Linked DNA regions of Homo sapiens: region 2 is reported to be linked to region 1. Evidence: microRNA targets listed by miRTarBase, many of them from high-throughput screens and not tested one by one. Region 1 holds a microRNA gene; the other region holds the end of a gene's coding sequence.
The links. The annotated mature microRNA hsa-miR-4327 reads GGCUUGCAUGGGGGACUGG and lies in region 1 at 2,407-2,425, opposite strand. An mRNA with a match to its seed (bases 2 to 7 or 8) in the 3' UTR can be bound and repressed. Matches are read on the target gene's strand: a 7mer-m8 pairs with bases 2 to 8, a 7mer-A1 pairs with bases 2 to 7 and ends in A, and an 8mer does both.

Region 1 (7,262 bases):
CACTATTCTATGGTTATGCTCTAAATCAACTCATAAATTTTATTTTGTTTTATGTTTCAATTTTTTTTTCTGGATAAAAGGACAGATTCTTAGCTGCAATTATTAATTTATACTTAAACTTTGAGGAATTGTTAACATTTTTCTGAAGCTTTTAACTTGAAGTATTAGAGTTATATGGGTCTTTAAACATCCCCTGTTCAACCCATACATGGAAAAATTACCTCTCAGAGAGCTTTAACTTTCCCCTAATTTCTCAGTAAGATAGAAGCAAAATTGAAGCTTTAATTATGGTTTTCTTATTCAGAGTCAAGTTGCAAATACCTTGCAAATATAAAAGTAAATTCAACTTTAACTTGTCTCAGAAAAGAAACTATTAAGCTTATTTATACTAAGATATAAAAGCCTAACAAAGCCTTATTTACTTTTCCTAACAATATTCACACTGAATAGTGTTCAACTGGGGAATTCTATGCCTTACTGATCTTCATACATTTGAAGTATATTTCACTTCCTAGCCCAAGAAAGAGAAAGAATATTGGTAATCCATGTTTAGATTAATGGGGGGAAGAGGCTTCTTATCTGTGTCTATTCTTCTTCTTTTGAATTTGACATTTTATTTGGTTTAACTAAGGGAAATGGCATTCACAATGGTTATCGAAAAGAGAGCCTCTTAACTACCTGAAAATTAACTTCCTTCATTCCAAAGCACACTGTTTCAGAGCACTTAGTTACTTTGTTTTATGATTATCTCTCCCATGCAGAATCCAAAGTGTGGCATGCATCACATGAAGTGCCCTTGTGCAATACTTAAACCATCACTCTGATTCACTGAAGTAAAATAAGCTGTGCTTTATGAATGGACACCTATTAAATTCACCAAAAAGTATGCACCACCCCCAACACATGGGATTCCTTATAATGGCAGCTTTTAACACCTTTAAAATGAGAAATATTTTTCTTTTCTTACTACAGGTTGATTCTGCTCAAAAAAAAGAAAACAAAAAACTTACTAATATCCAAAAGTTCTTGCCTTTCTAGACCAGCTCCCTATGTCTGGGAATAAACACTAAAATAACTTGGGAGTAAGTCAGTTCCAATTAACAGTCCCTCCACCCATTCCTAATTGGGTTAACACTTTTTATTAGGAGTTATTTGTGCACTTTGTACAAATGCTAATGAACAACTCCCAAATGCTAATAAATGTGTCCATCTGAAAGGCAGAAAAAGCAGAACAAAACTAGAGTAGCCTTAACAGTTCAAAAGTGGATTCTGGAACTAATAAAATACTCTACGTACTCTACATACACAGGCAAAGTATTAGTATAGAAAGAAAAATTCACTATCTTGATATGTCAGGGAAAACGTGATATTGAAATCTTTTCTCTCTCTCTCCTTCCTTCCTTCCCTCCCTCCCTCTTTCTTTTTCTTTTTCTTTCTTTTCTTTCTCTGCCTCTCTTTCCTTTTCTTTTTCTTTCTTTTCTTTCCCTCCCTCCCTCTCTCTCTGCCTCCTTCCCTCCCTTTCTCCCTCTCTCTCTTTCTCTGTTTCTCTTTCTTTCTATTTCTTTCTTTCTTTTCTCTTTCTTTCTTTCTTCTTTCTCTTTTCTCTTTAGAAATTTAGGCATAACAACACTACAGAGAATAAAACTATCATTACAGTACACAGTAGCCACAAGTAGCCTATGATCTGAATTACTTGAAAAGTGATTGTTTTTCCAAGTTAACATAGTAATGTAGCAGAAGCTTTAAACTGACAATCTTCTATTGCAATGTTTCCAGAGATTCTTCAAAAGCTTTCAAATTAACCAAATATTAGGCAGTAGTAGAAATAGTAAAAATCCATATATACTGCCCTATACCTTTTTTACTTTCTTTTTTTTTTTTTTTTTTCCGAGACGGAGTCTGGCTCTGTCACCCAGGCTGGAGTACAGTGGTGCAATCTTGGCTCACTGCAAGCTCTGCCTCCCGGGTTCACACCATTCTCTTGCCTCAGCCTCCCGAGTAGCTGGGACTACAGGTGCCCGCCACCACGCCTGGCTAATTTTTTGTATTTTTAGTAGAGACGGGGTTTCCCCATGTTAGCCAGGATGGTCTTGATCTCCTGACCTCATGATCCACCCGCCTCGGCCTCCCAAAGTGCTGGGATTACAGGCGTGAGCCACCGCGTCCGGCCACCTTTTTACTTTCTGTTCACTTTTTAATTTTCTGCCTTCTCTAGACCTAGGAGAGGCTTTTATTGTCTGGTCACTAAAGAGTCTTCATAACAGCTGCTTTACACTAGATTTTATTTTTAAAATTCTCACCCAAGGGGAAATGTATCTATTAAACATTAATGCTAACTATGAAGAACCCACTACTGAGTAAAGGCTTGATGAGAACTCCCTGGACTAACCTGTTCATGGTCTCTTCCCAGTCCCCCATGCAAGCCTACCCAGGCCTGTGGCTTTCTCGGAGGTCATCCGGCCTCATTGTTTGAGACTTTTCCAGGCCCTGGCACCTCCTCTAACTTCACTACAGCTCTTCCTGCTTCAAATTCATCCATTTTATGTCTTCATCATCCATGACTTTCGTTTGAAATAAAAAGGCCAGGCTGGGCGCAGTGGCTCACGCCTGTAATCCCAGCACTTTGGGAGGCCGAGGCAGGTGGATCACGAGGTCAGGAGTTTGAGACCAGCCTTTCAAACATGGCGAAATCCCGTCTCTACTAAAAATACAAAAATTAGCCAGGCGTGGTGGCAGACATCTGTAATCCCAGCTACTGGAGAGGCTGAGGCAGGAGAATCGCTTGAAACTGGAAGGCAGAGGTTGCAGTGAGCCAAGGTCATGCCACTGCACTCCAGCCTGGGCGACAGAGTGAGATTCCGTCTCAAACAAACAAACAAACAAAAAGATTTATAAACAGCCTGCTTACACACCTCTCGGTTCTTCTTATCTCTTCTGAGACCTTACCCTTGCATTTACTGAAAACAAATAGAAAATTAAAGTAAATTCTAGAGTCATTTTCTGGATGCCTAAACTCACAATTGTTACCACGTTGTCAGATTTGCGTTCATCTTTCTCTTTTTTATTTTAAATGTTTATGGATACATAATGTTGCGCATATTAATGGGGTACATGTGATATTTTGATACAGGCACACGATGTGTAATGATCAAATCTGGGTAACTGGCATATCCATCACCTTAAACATTTATCATTTTTTTTGTGTTGAGAACATTCCAAATCTACTTTTCTAGTTATTTTGAAATATGCAATACATTATTGTTAACCACAGTTGCTGTACTGTGTTACTGAACACTAGATCTTATTCCTCCTATCTAACTATATTTTTGCACCCATTAACCAACACCTCTCTGTCCTTTCTTTCCACTACCCTTGCAAGCCTATGGTAACCACCATTCTATTCGCTATCTTACAGAGAGAGACCCCTTGTGGGCCAGTCTCTCAGTCTGATTCTTTTTCATATCTTTCCAAAGGCATCACAATAATGCATTCGTTTTTGCATAGCATTCCAGGAAATTGTCTATACATATATTTATCGGTTTATACCATTTATTGTTGTTTTAAGTTACAAAAATGCCATCTTATTGGATACATATATGTATCTGTAGCTTTCTTTTTATATTAAATTTATTTAAATAAAAATATCTAAAACATATCCAAGTTGATATTTATATATTTGTGCATTTATTATCACTACAGTAGAACTTTTAAATGTCAGGCACTGTTCTCAGCACTGTATTACAAATATTAACTCAATCCTCATAATAATTCTACATGGTACACACCACTTTTATTCTTGTTTTATAGCTGAGGAAGCTGAGACACAAACAGATTGAGTTACTTGCCAAAGCTACCCATGTAGTTAGTAGCAGAGATGAGATTTGAACTGCAATACTGACACCATTGTCAGACTTTATGCAAATAACCATGTTGCTATGATACACACATCTAGTTTATTCCTTGTTACAAATTTATAGAATTCTACTGTATAAAAATATTTTATTGATATATCGCTCTACCATTCTTGATTTTTTACTATCACAAACCATGTGGCAAGAAATATACTTCTATATAGGCCCTTGCATCTACTGTCTAGGGCTTCTGGAACATGTATATTTAGATGCAATTGCTGGACATACATAATTTCAATTCTAGCATGGTAGTTACGATCAAGGCTTTTGGATTCAGGCTGGCAGAGTTTGAATCCCAGCTCCATCACTTAGCTGTGTAACTCAGACCTGTTTTAGTTTCTCATATTTTGTTATCTTTTAGCCATTATTCTATGGAGTCATTTGTTCTTTTAAATGTATTTTTAGAGAATTTGTGCATTCTTTTTGTATGCCTTTGTCTTTCATATGTTGCTAATATATTCCTCTGGTCAGTTGTTTGACTCTTTTGTAAAGTCAGATCTGTGGATACACAGTTCCCATAAAATGAAATGCACCATTTTTAGGAGTACAGTTCAATGGGTTTTTTCCTTTCTGTTCTTTTTTTGGTGGAGGGGGCAAGGGCTTGCTCTGTTGCCCAGGCTGGAGTGCAGTAGTGTGATCATAGCTCACTGTAGCCTCCAACTGCTGAGCTCAAGTCATTCTCCTGCCTCAGCCTCCTGAGTGGTTAGGACTATAAGTGCATACCACAACCCCTAGCTATTTTTTTTTCTTTTTTTTTTGTAGAGGCAGATTCTCACTGTGTTGTCCAGTTTAGTCTTGAATTCCTGGCCTCATGCAATCTTCCTGCCTTGGCTTCCCAGTTCAATGAGTTTTGACAAACATATATAGTTATGTAATCATCAATTGATTGAGATAGAGTATTTCCATTATTTCTAGAAATTCTCCTGTGCTCCTTTGGATCAATCTGCTTCCCCAATATCTAAATTTCTGTTCCTATAGTCTTATTTTTTGAACTGCATGATAAAAGGAATTACACATTACGTTGCCTTCTGTGTTTAACTTCCTTCACAGAGCATAATGCTTTTGAAATTCATCCATGTTGTTGCATATTCCAGTAGTTTATTCCCTTTTATTGCCAAGTGGTATTTCATTGTATGTACGCTATACACTAGAAAATGGACATTTAGATGATTTTGAGTCTGGAGTTACTGTGGATAAAACTGCTATAAACATTCACATACAGATAATTTTGTGGACATATGTAATATGGTTTGGCTCTGTGTGCCCATTCAAATCTCATCTCTAATTATAATCCCCACATGTCAAGGAAGGGACCTGGTGGGAGGTGATTGGATCATGAGGACGGTTTCCGCCATGCTGTTCTGATGATAGTGAGGGATTTCTCATGAGATCTGATGGTTTTAAAAGTCCCAGTTTCTGCCTGTGTATACTCTCTTTCTCTCCTGCCACCATGTAACATGTGCCTTGCTTCCCCTTCACCTTCCACCATGATGTAAATTTCCTGGTGCCTCTCCAACCATGAGGAACTATGAGTCAATTAAACCATTTTTCTTTATAAATTACCCAGTCCTAGGTAGTATCTTCATAGCAGTGTGATAACAGACTAATACAGAGAATTGGTACCAGCAGAGTTGGGTACTGCTATAAAGATAAACTGAAAATGTGGAAGCGACATTGGAACTGGTAACAGGAGGAGGTTGGAACAGTTTGGAGGGCTTAGAAGAAGACGGGAAGATGTGGGAAAGTTTGGAACTTCCTAGAGACTTGTTGAATGGTTTTGACCAAAATGCTGATAGTGATATGAACAACGAAGTCCATGCTGAGGTGGTCTCAGATGGAGATGAGGAACTTATAGGGAACTGGAGCAAAGTCACTCTTGCTATGCTTTAGCAAAGAAACTAGTGGCATTTTTCCCCTGCTTTAGAGACCTGTGAAACTTTGAACTTGAGAGAGATGATTTAAGGTATCCGGTGGAAGAAATTGCTAAGCAGCAGAACATTCAACATGTGACCTGGCTTATTCTGAAAGCATTCAGTTATGTGTGTTCACAAAGAGATGCTTTGAAATTGGAACTTATTTTAAAAAGGAAGCAGAGCATAAAAGTTTGGAAAATTTGCAGCCTGACCATGTGATAGAAAAGGAATACCCATTTTCTGCAGAGGAATTCAAGCTGGCTGCAGAAATTTGCATAAGCAACGAGGAGCTGAATGTCAATAGCCAAGACAATGGGGAAAATGTCTCAGGGGCATGTCAGAGACATTTACAGGAGCCATTGTCATCACCGGCCTGGAGGCCTGGGAGGGAAAAATGGCTTCATACATTAGGATCAGGGCTTGGCTGCTCTGTGCAGCTTCAGGACTTGATGCCTTGTGTCCCAGAAGCTCCAGCTCCAGCCATGGCTGATAGGGGCCAGGGTATAGCTACAGCTGTTGCTTCAGAGGGTGCAAGTCCCAAGCATTGGTGGCTTGCAAGTGGTATTGGGCCTGCAGATGTGCAGAAAACAAGAGTTGAGGTTTGGGAACCTCTGTCTAAATTTCAGAGGATATATGTAAATGCTTGGAAGTCCAGACAATAGTCTGCTGCAGGGGCAGAGCCCTCATGGAGAACCTCTGCTAGGGCAGTGCAGAAGGGAACTGTGGGGTGTGAGCTCCCACACAGAGTCCCCACTGGGGCACTGTCTGGTGGAGCCATGAGAAGGCCACCATCCTCCAGACCCCAGAAATGTAGATCCACCAACAGCTTGCATTGTGTGTGTGGAAAAGCCACAGACACTCAATGCCAGCCTGTGAAAGTAGCCATGAGGACTATAACCTGCAGAGCCACAGGAGAGAAGCTGCCCAAGGCATTAGGAGCCCACCCCTTGCATCAGCGTGTCCTGGATGTGGGACATGAATTCAAAGGAAATTATTTTGGAGCTTTAATATTTAATGGCTGTGCTACATGGGGCCTGTATCCTTTTTGTTCTGGCCAATTTCTCCCTCTTGGAATGTGAACATTTACCCAATGCCTGTACCCCCATTGTATCTTGGAAGTAACTAACTTGTTTTTGATTTACAGGCTCATAGGCAGAAAAGGACTTGCCTTATCTCAGATGAGACTTTGAACTTGGACTTTGGGGTTAATTCTGGAATAAGTTAAGACTTTGTGTGACTGTTAGGAAGGCATGATTGGTTTTGAAATGTGAGAAGGACATGAGATTTGGGAGGTGCCAAGGGCAGAATGATATGGTTTGGCCCTGTGGCCCCACCTAAATCTCATCTTGAATTATAATCCCCACATGTTGAGGAAGGGGCCTGGTGGGGGGTGATTGGATCATGGGGGGTGGTTTCTACCATGCTGATCTTGTGATAG
Region 2 (7,042 bases), not on the chromosome of region 1:
CGCCTGGCGGAAGTGGCCAGGCGTCCACGAGCGCGGCGCGTATAGGTTCACCTCGCTCGCTCCGCAGCCCCCAGGGGCTCATGGCTGCCTATCCCCCCTTTACAAGAGGACAATGAGGCTACACATGAGCCCAGCCACAAGCCAGGGGGTGGAGCTGGGCAGGGAAGCTGGGCCTCCGGGGGGGTAGGTAGGGGGTCTGGGTCAGAGACACTGCAGGGGAAACAGGCAGAGGACCAGAACTCCAAAGCCAGAATCTCCTCGGAGCCACACTGCCACCTACTCCCCCTTCGTGGGCAGCAGCACCTACCAGGCAGTCCCATCCCCTGGCTCCCCATGTCCGCCCCCATCCATCTCGGGGGACAAAGTCACTCTGTCCCCACGGGGCTCACAAGGATGGGGCCTGTTTGGCCTGTTTCCCCACCTGCAGCAGGAGGGCTTGGCAGGAGTGGGCCGGAGCGGGAGGCTGTTCGCTGGAAAGGGGAGGGGACGCACAGGCGGGCAGGGCCGAGGCAGGGGAGGAATGAGGCCTGCACTGCAGGGCGCCCCCCTCATGCGCGCTGATAAGGGAGCGTGGGAACCCAGCGGGCAGGCCGGGGCAGCTCCCCCAGGAACTTTCCAAAACAAGCGCCTGGAGGCCGGAAAGTTTCCACCACTGGAGCTGGCCCAAAAGGTGGATAGTTGGGAACGTTTGCAAGAGACAGGGCCTGACCTTGGAGGATGAGGGCTTAAGACTCTGGGTCCAGGCCTCACCCTGAAGGGGCCCCAGTCTGAGGGAGTTGGAAGTGGACTGGGACACCCCCGCCCCAGTGGGTGGGAACTCACAGGCAGGGCCCCTGCAAGACAGGCTCCCCAGATGAGGGGGCTGCTGGCAAGGGTTTTGAGACATGAAGAGGAGTTCACTGAAAGAAAACTACAGGCCAAGCCACCTGAGCCACCCAGACAGGGCAGATGAAAAATTGGCTACGTGGGAGGCAGTTTGGGGTCTTGGGCAGACCCTGAGGGCTGGGGATAGGGAGTGTGAAAGAGTATTTGGTGTTTGTTCCTGGTTCTTGGTTAGACATTGAGCTCAATCACCAGTGGCCAACGATTTAATCAATCACATATATGCAAATGAGACAGTTGGGGCTCAGAACACAGAAACTCCCCTCAGCCTCAAGTTATGGGGCCTTGGCCTGCCCCGCGCTTTGAGCAGGGCATCGGAAAGCTCAGAATCGAGTCTCTCCGACCTTCTCCTGCCCTCCTGCCTCTAGCCCCTTTCTCCCCTGGAAACCATAGAAACCAGAATTCCTCTTCCCCAAGGCAGGTCAGAGACACTGGAGCCCTTCTCCCCTTAAAACAAAAAAAAAGCCACAAAGCCGGCAAAGGTCACTCTCTGCCTGCTCCCTTGAAGACCCTCATTCCGGGAGGGTCCTGCCCATACCCTGGAGGAAGGAATGCTACCCAGAGTCTAGGAAGTCTGGGCAGGCTGGCCCCCCTCCCCCACCCAGTCTGCTCCCTTTAAGATCTACAGTGTTTCAACACATTGATACACATTCTTCATAGAACCTAAGCCGAAAAATAGGCAGTCAGCCAGGCACGGTGGCTCATGCCTGTAATCCTAGCACTTTGGGAGGTCAAAGCGGGCGCATCGCTTGAGCCCAGGAGTTTGAGACCAGCCTGGGCAACACGGGGAAACCCCGTCTCAATACAAACAAACAAACAAAAAATAGCCGGGCTTGGTGGCGCACACCTGTAGTCCAGCTGCGTGGGAGGCTGAGGTGGGAGGATCACCTAAGCTCAGGAGGTGTAGGCTGCAGTGAGCCATGATTGTACCACTGCACTCCAGCCTGGGCAACAGAGTAATACCCTGTCTCAAAAAAAAAATGGGGTTTAGGGGAAAATATGGAGGGGCTGGGAGGGTGGCATGCCTGGAAAAGGCATGGAAGCTTCACGGCCCGCCCATACCTTGCCCTGTGCGCCTCCTCCATTTGGCTGTGAGCATTTTCCGGAGTTCTGTGAGCTGTTCCAGCAATTATCAAACCTGAAGTGGGGTCATGGGAACTCGCAATTTATTAGCCTGCTTGCCAGAAGTATAGGTGGCATCTGACACAGGTGCAGCCCTGTGGGACTGACCCCCATAACTTGTGGAGTCCGATACCATCTCTGGGAATGGAACTGTTGGACATCCTGTAGGTACTGGAGGATCAGAGAATCGGGGAGTTTGTGCCTCGAGGCGACACGTGATTCAGGAACCTGTGTAGTTGAGAGACATGAGGAAGGTCCCAAGACCCAGCCCCGGGGAGCCTGTGTTCACAGGGCCACCTGTAGAGGGTGCCGGAGGATGGGAGCTGGCACAGGGCAGCTGGAGGGAATCGGCATAGAGGCTGGGCTGCTTCCACTCCCAGCAGTTGACAAGGCCGAAGGAGGGGGTTTGGCCCCTACAGTCAGGCCTGGGTGTGCTGAAGTCGGTGGTGAGATGCACTGTTATTCCCCAGCAAAGTGTGGGCTCCCTGAAGGCAGGGATGAGGCTGAGTCACTGCTGTGTTGCAGAGCCCAGGTGGAGCTTGGTACAGGAGGGGGCTGCAGGAACAGGGGTGCCCGTTGAAAGAGGACAATTGGGGCCCCTGGCAGGTGGCAGGAGAGGGTTTAACAGCTCTGAGCCCCTCTCTACCAGGGTGCCCAGGTCATGAGGGTGGGAAGGCTCTCCTGAATATCCGGGGCACTAGACTGATGGCATCCATGGCTCAGGAAGGTCAGGGGACTGACTGTGGCCTCTGCAGGCTGCGGGGGTGATGGCCAGAGTATTGCTGGGCAGTTGGCTTAGGGCTGGCGTTGGAGGGCCGGGGGAGGCAGGACCGTGAGCTGCAGGAGGTTGGTGTTGGCCCTGGGATGTTGGGACAGAGATGTTATCCTGGGAGAACAGCGTGGCCAGGCTATGCTGGGAGCAGGGTACACGCTGCCCCACTGGGCTGCATGACTTCCCCTCCCGCGCCCCTCAGATTCCTGGGTGGCCTTAGAACTTGGGCCAAGGCCACGGACGGGCAGGGAGGCCAGGCCCCCCCCACAGCTGCAGGCCCAGGACCTTTGCCCACGGTCCTATTCTTCGGTGTTATCGCTTACTAAATGCACCCCTTCTTGTCCTTGGCTGGCAGGTTGAGTGTTATGTTCTCCATGGCCCCTGGCTCGTTCCACCTGCACCACCGCCGCTCCCGTCAGGCCTTTTCCCCATCCCCACTAGTGGCACAGGGGATGCCCCTGCCCCAGTGTGGGAAGAACAGGTAATATTACCGTTACCTGCTGCTGCTTTCATCAGAGGGAGACAGTCACAGCTGGTTTCCCCCACCCCCAGCCCCACTCCTGTAGCCTTTGGTGCCACAGGGGGCCAAGGAATCCCAATGCTGGGTTCAGCCCACCCTATCCACACCAGAGGGTACTGCTGTGCTCACACACCTGCTATGGCTCCCTATCCCTCCGCCCTGACCCAGCCTGCCCCCACCCCCGCGCTCCCCGTCACCTACAGGGCCCTCTGATTTGGTCCTTTCTCAGGCAACGGCTCAGGTAGGCTGCAAACTCTGCCTTCTTATCTGGTCCCAGCCAGAGCCCCTGAACAACCCTTTCTCATCATTATGGCGGCCCCAGGTCACATCACCTCCTGATGCCAGCCCACCCCCAACCACAGGACAGGGACAGCCACCACAGAAACCAGGCTGTGACACACCCACACACTACACACACACCCACACCCCAACACACACCACACACCCAACACACACACCCCCAACACACACCACACCCTCACACCACACACACACCTACACACCCCAACACACACCACACACCACCCAACACACACCACACCCTCACACCCCAACACACACCACACATCCGGTCAACACACACCAACACACACCACACCCACACCAACACACCCCAACACACACCACACCCACACACCCCAACACACACCCACCCTCAACACATCCCCAACACACCACACACACCCCACACCACACACCCCAACACACACCACACCCTCATACCACACACCCAGATACACCACATCCACACACCACACCCCAACACACACCCACATCCCAACACATACCACATCCCAACAAACACCACATCCTCACCACACACATCCCCAACACACACCACACACCCCACACCCCAACACACACCACACACAACACACCCACACATACAACACACACACCCTAACACATCACACACACTACACACCCACACACAACATCCAACACACACCGACACAGATATACTACACACCCACACACCCCAACACACACCACACACACATACACACCATACACCACACACACAGATACACCAACACCCACACACCACACACACCAGCCAGGCAGCCTGGGCTGCCAGGTTCAGTTCAGTGAAATTTATTGGAGAATGAAAAAAGTCAGCATTCACCTGTTTAGTGTACAAAAAGGACACTAGATCTTTTAAGAAAATATCAGGAAACTGAAGACGCAGATAGATGCCTTTCAATTGTAACATTTTGGCAAAAGTGGAAAGTTCTTGTAAACACCAACCCCATGGCTCAAAATAGTTTTTCTCCACAGTACAACATTAAAAGAAAAAAAAATAGTATCAATAAGTTAGACCATATTTAATCAGCTAGAACTTTGTCCACCAACCCCCAAAACACAAAACTTTTCTTAGCTTCATAATTCCTTAAAAGGAGAACAAATAAACAACAAAAACAACAACAACAACAAAAAGGCAAATTCAACTGACAGCCCCTTGGACTGGTTCCCAGGGCAGAGGGGCGGGCAGTCCCGGGCTGGGACCTCCTGAAATCATCCCACCTCACCGGTGTCTGCAGGGCTGCCTGCGGGCGACACAGCAAGGTCCAGCTGACTCTGGAGGCCTCCTGGAGCCTGCTCGGCCCTTCCCCGGCCCGGCCCGGCCCAAAGAGAAAAACAACAACAGCTATTGAAACATGAAGGATCAGTTTCCTCGGAGCTCTGGGAACCCGGGGGTCCCAAAGGAGAGAGACTCTCGGGCAGGGGTGGGATACACTGTGGGCCCTCCACAGTCAGCTCTTTGGAAGCTGTCAGGAGGCACCCCTCCACCCCCCAGTTTAGAAAAATAGACATCTGTATTTTTGCATTTCTGTTCTCCCTGCCTGACTGCTGATGGCAGCAGTGACCCCCATGTGATCCCTGGGCCCTGAGTCACAGCCGCCATCCACCCCCCACCACCTTTCCAAGTCATGGCTTCATTCAGCCCTAAATGGGAACACACGCCTCAGACCCCACCATGCCCTGGGGGGTCCCCACATACGCACACTCACACACCCACACTTGCGTGGCCCCCCGATGCTTTGGGGGACACTAGACTAGGCACAGCAACAGAGCAGCAATTGGGGTGTCTGCAGAGCCTGCACCCCCAGAGCAGGCAGACCCATCCTCCTGGCTCCCCAGCTCTGCCCATGGGTCCCTGGGGCCTCCCTGACCCCATGGCGCCCAGCCCTCCATCAGCCCCTCCCTGAGTGCAAACCTTGGCGGTGGCTCTGCTAAGACGACCCCAGGACCCACAAGTGGACAGAGGGACGGAGGGAGGCCAGCAGCATCGAGACCACAAGGTCTCAACAGTGTGGAATGAGCAGCAGCAGCAACAAATGGGAAACCGAGGACATCGCAAAGAAAAGTCTGACGCCGCTGCGGCCGAGTCTCAACTTGGAGCACAGAAACACAGTGGCCCCCGACAGCTGAGGGCCTGAAATAGCAGGGCAGGCCTGGGGGCGCTGAAAGCCCTCTGCCCCCTTGGCTCTGAGCAGCTGTCTGGGGGCACCAGCTGGAGTTCTCAAAATAGCCACCTGGGCCACCCTGTTTGCTTGCTGGAGCAGAGACCCTGCCCAAGGAGGAGAGGCTGGGGAAAGGGGTGCCTAAACGTAGAGCCAGAGACCAGCAGAGGCCACCTGCCCATTCCCCACGCCCTCAGAACGCAGCTGCACCTTTCGACGACCTCTGTAATACTGCAGGCAGGACCCAGGGCAGCGGCTAGACCCTGGGTGTCCGAGGAGAGGGAGGCACAGGTTTAGAAAAAAGATTTTGCTTCTCTTTTGTACAAAAATAGACTCAAGTCTCATTAGCAGTAGCTAAAAGTGGCTGTCTTTGTATAAAACTAGAAAAGGCAGGCGCGCCACCCCAAGGGCCTAGGAGTCTTCTGGCGAGACAGGAGGCTGAACCCCGGAGGCTGCAGCCAGGGAGGAGGCAGTGGGCTTCCTGGGGAGCCCATCATAAGCAGGGACTGCTCAGGAAGCGCAGGGAGGGCCGAGGTGGGCTTGCAGCCACCCGCCAGGGCCAGACGTCTGCAGGGGCTGCCCTGAAAGCCGGCGGTGCTGGCTCAGATGAGCATCTTCCTCGGGTTTATTTTTTTAAATAAATCCTCTCTCACCGCCTTTTGCTCCCCCGACCCTCCCAGATCCCCGCCATCGGGGAGGGCGGCTAGGGCCAAGCCTGCAGCTGCCGCTGGTCGTACTCGGCGATGAGCCTCTTGATGTGGGCCAGCTTGCTGTGCAGGTACTCGCAGCGGTGCTTCTCCTGGCTGTAGTTGGTGTTGGTCTGTGGGACAGCACAGTCATGCTCAGGACAGAGCCGCCCTGGGTGCTGCTCCCCGCTGTAAGCAGGCCAGTGTCCCCCCCAAACCAAAAACCTGGGCTTGGTGCCCAGCAAGGAGGGTTGTGGTCCAAGGGCAGAGTGGGAGTTGGTCCCCCGCACCTCCACAGCTTGTGTGGCTGGGCCAGGATGCCACAGCTGAAGACTTAGCTGGGGGTGGTGGGGCAACTTTGGCCTCAGACTCAAAGGCTCTTCCCCCACACCTTGGAAGTAGCGGGCAGGGAGGCTGCCCCGGGCCCACCCTCCTCCCTCCAGCTCCCATGGCTCACTTGGAGCCCACCCCAACACAAGAGACACTCACCTTTTTGATTTTTCGATATTCCTGCAAAATCTGCCCTCGAGTAGTCTAGAAGAAAAACAAAATTTTGAGAAAACAGAATGTGTCCCCGCCTACAGGAAACCCAAAT

Region 2: miRTarBase lists ELL as a target of hsa-miR-4327. Seed matches in the 3' UTR shown: 7mer-m8 at 6,300-6,306 and 7mer-A1 at 5,849-5,855.

The regions. Positions count from the first base shown.
Region 1 is chr21:30,372,944-30,380,205 of GRCh38, forward strand. It overlaps MIR4327 (microRNA 4327), which reads right to left and starts at 2,435; the gene lies at 2,351-2,435.
Region 2 is chr19:18,438,288-18,445,329 of GRCh38, forward strand. ELL (elongation factor for RNA polymerase II) reads right to left here. Exons shown (of 12, transcript NM_006532.4): 11 at 6,937-6,981; 12 at 4,376-6,581. The coding sequence ends at 6,465. Among named protein-coding and RNA genes, the nearest start is that of ISYNA1, 3.7 kb to the left of the region's middle. RefSeq lists enhancers at 1-58, 59-1,045, 2,391-2,510, 2,671-2,730 and a silencer at 3,524-3,573.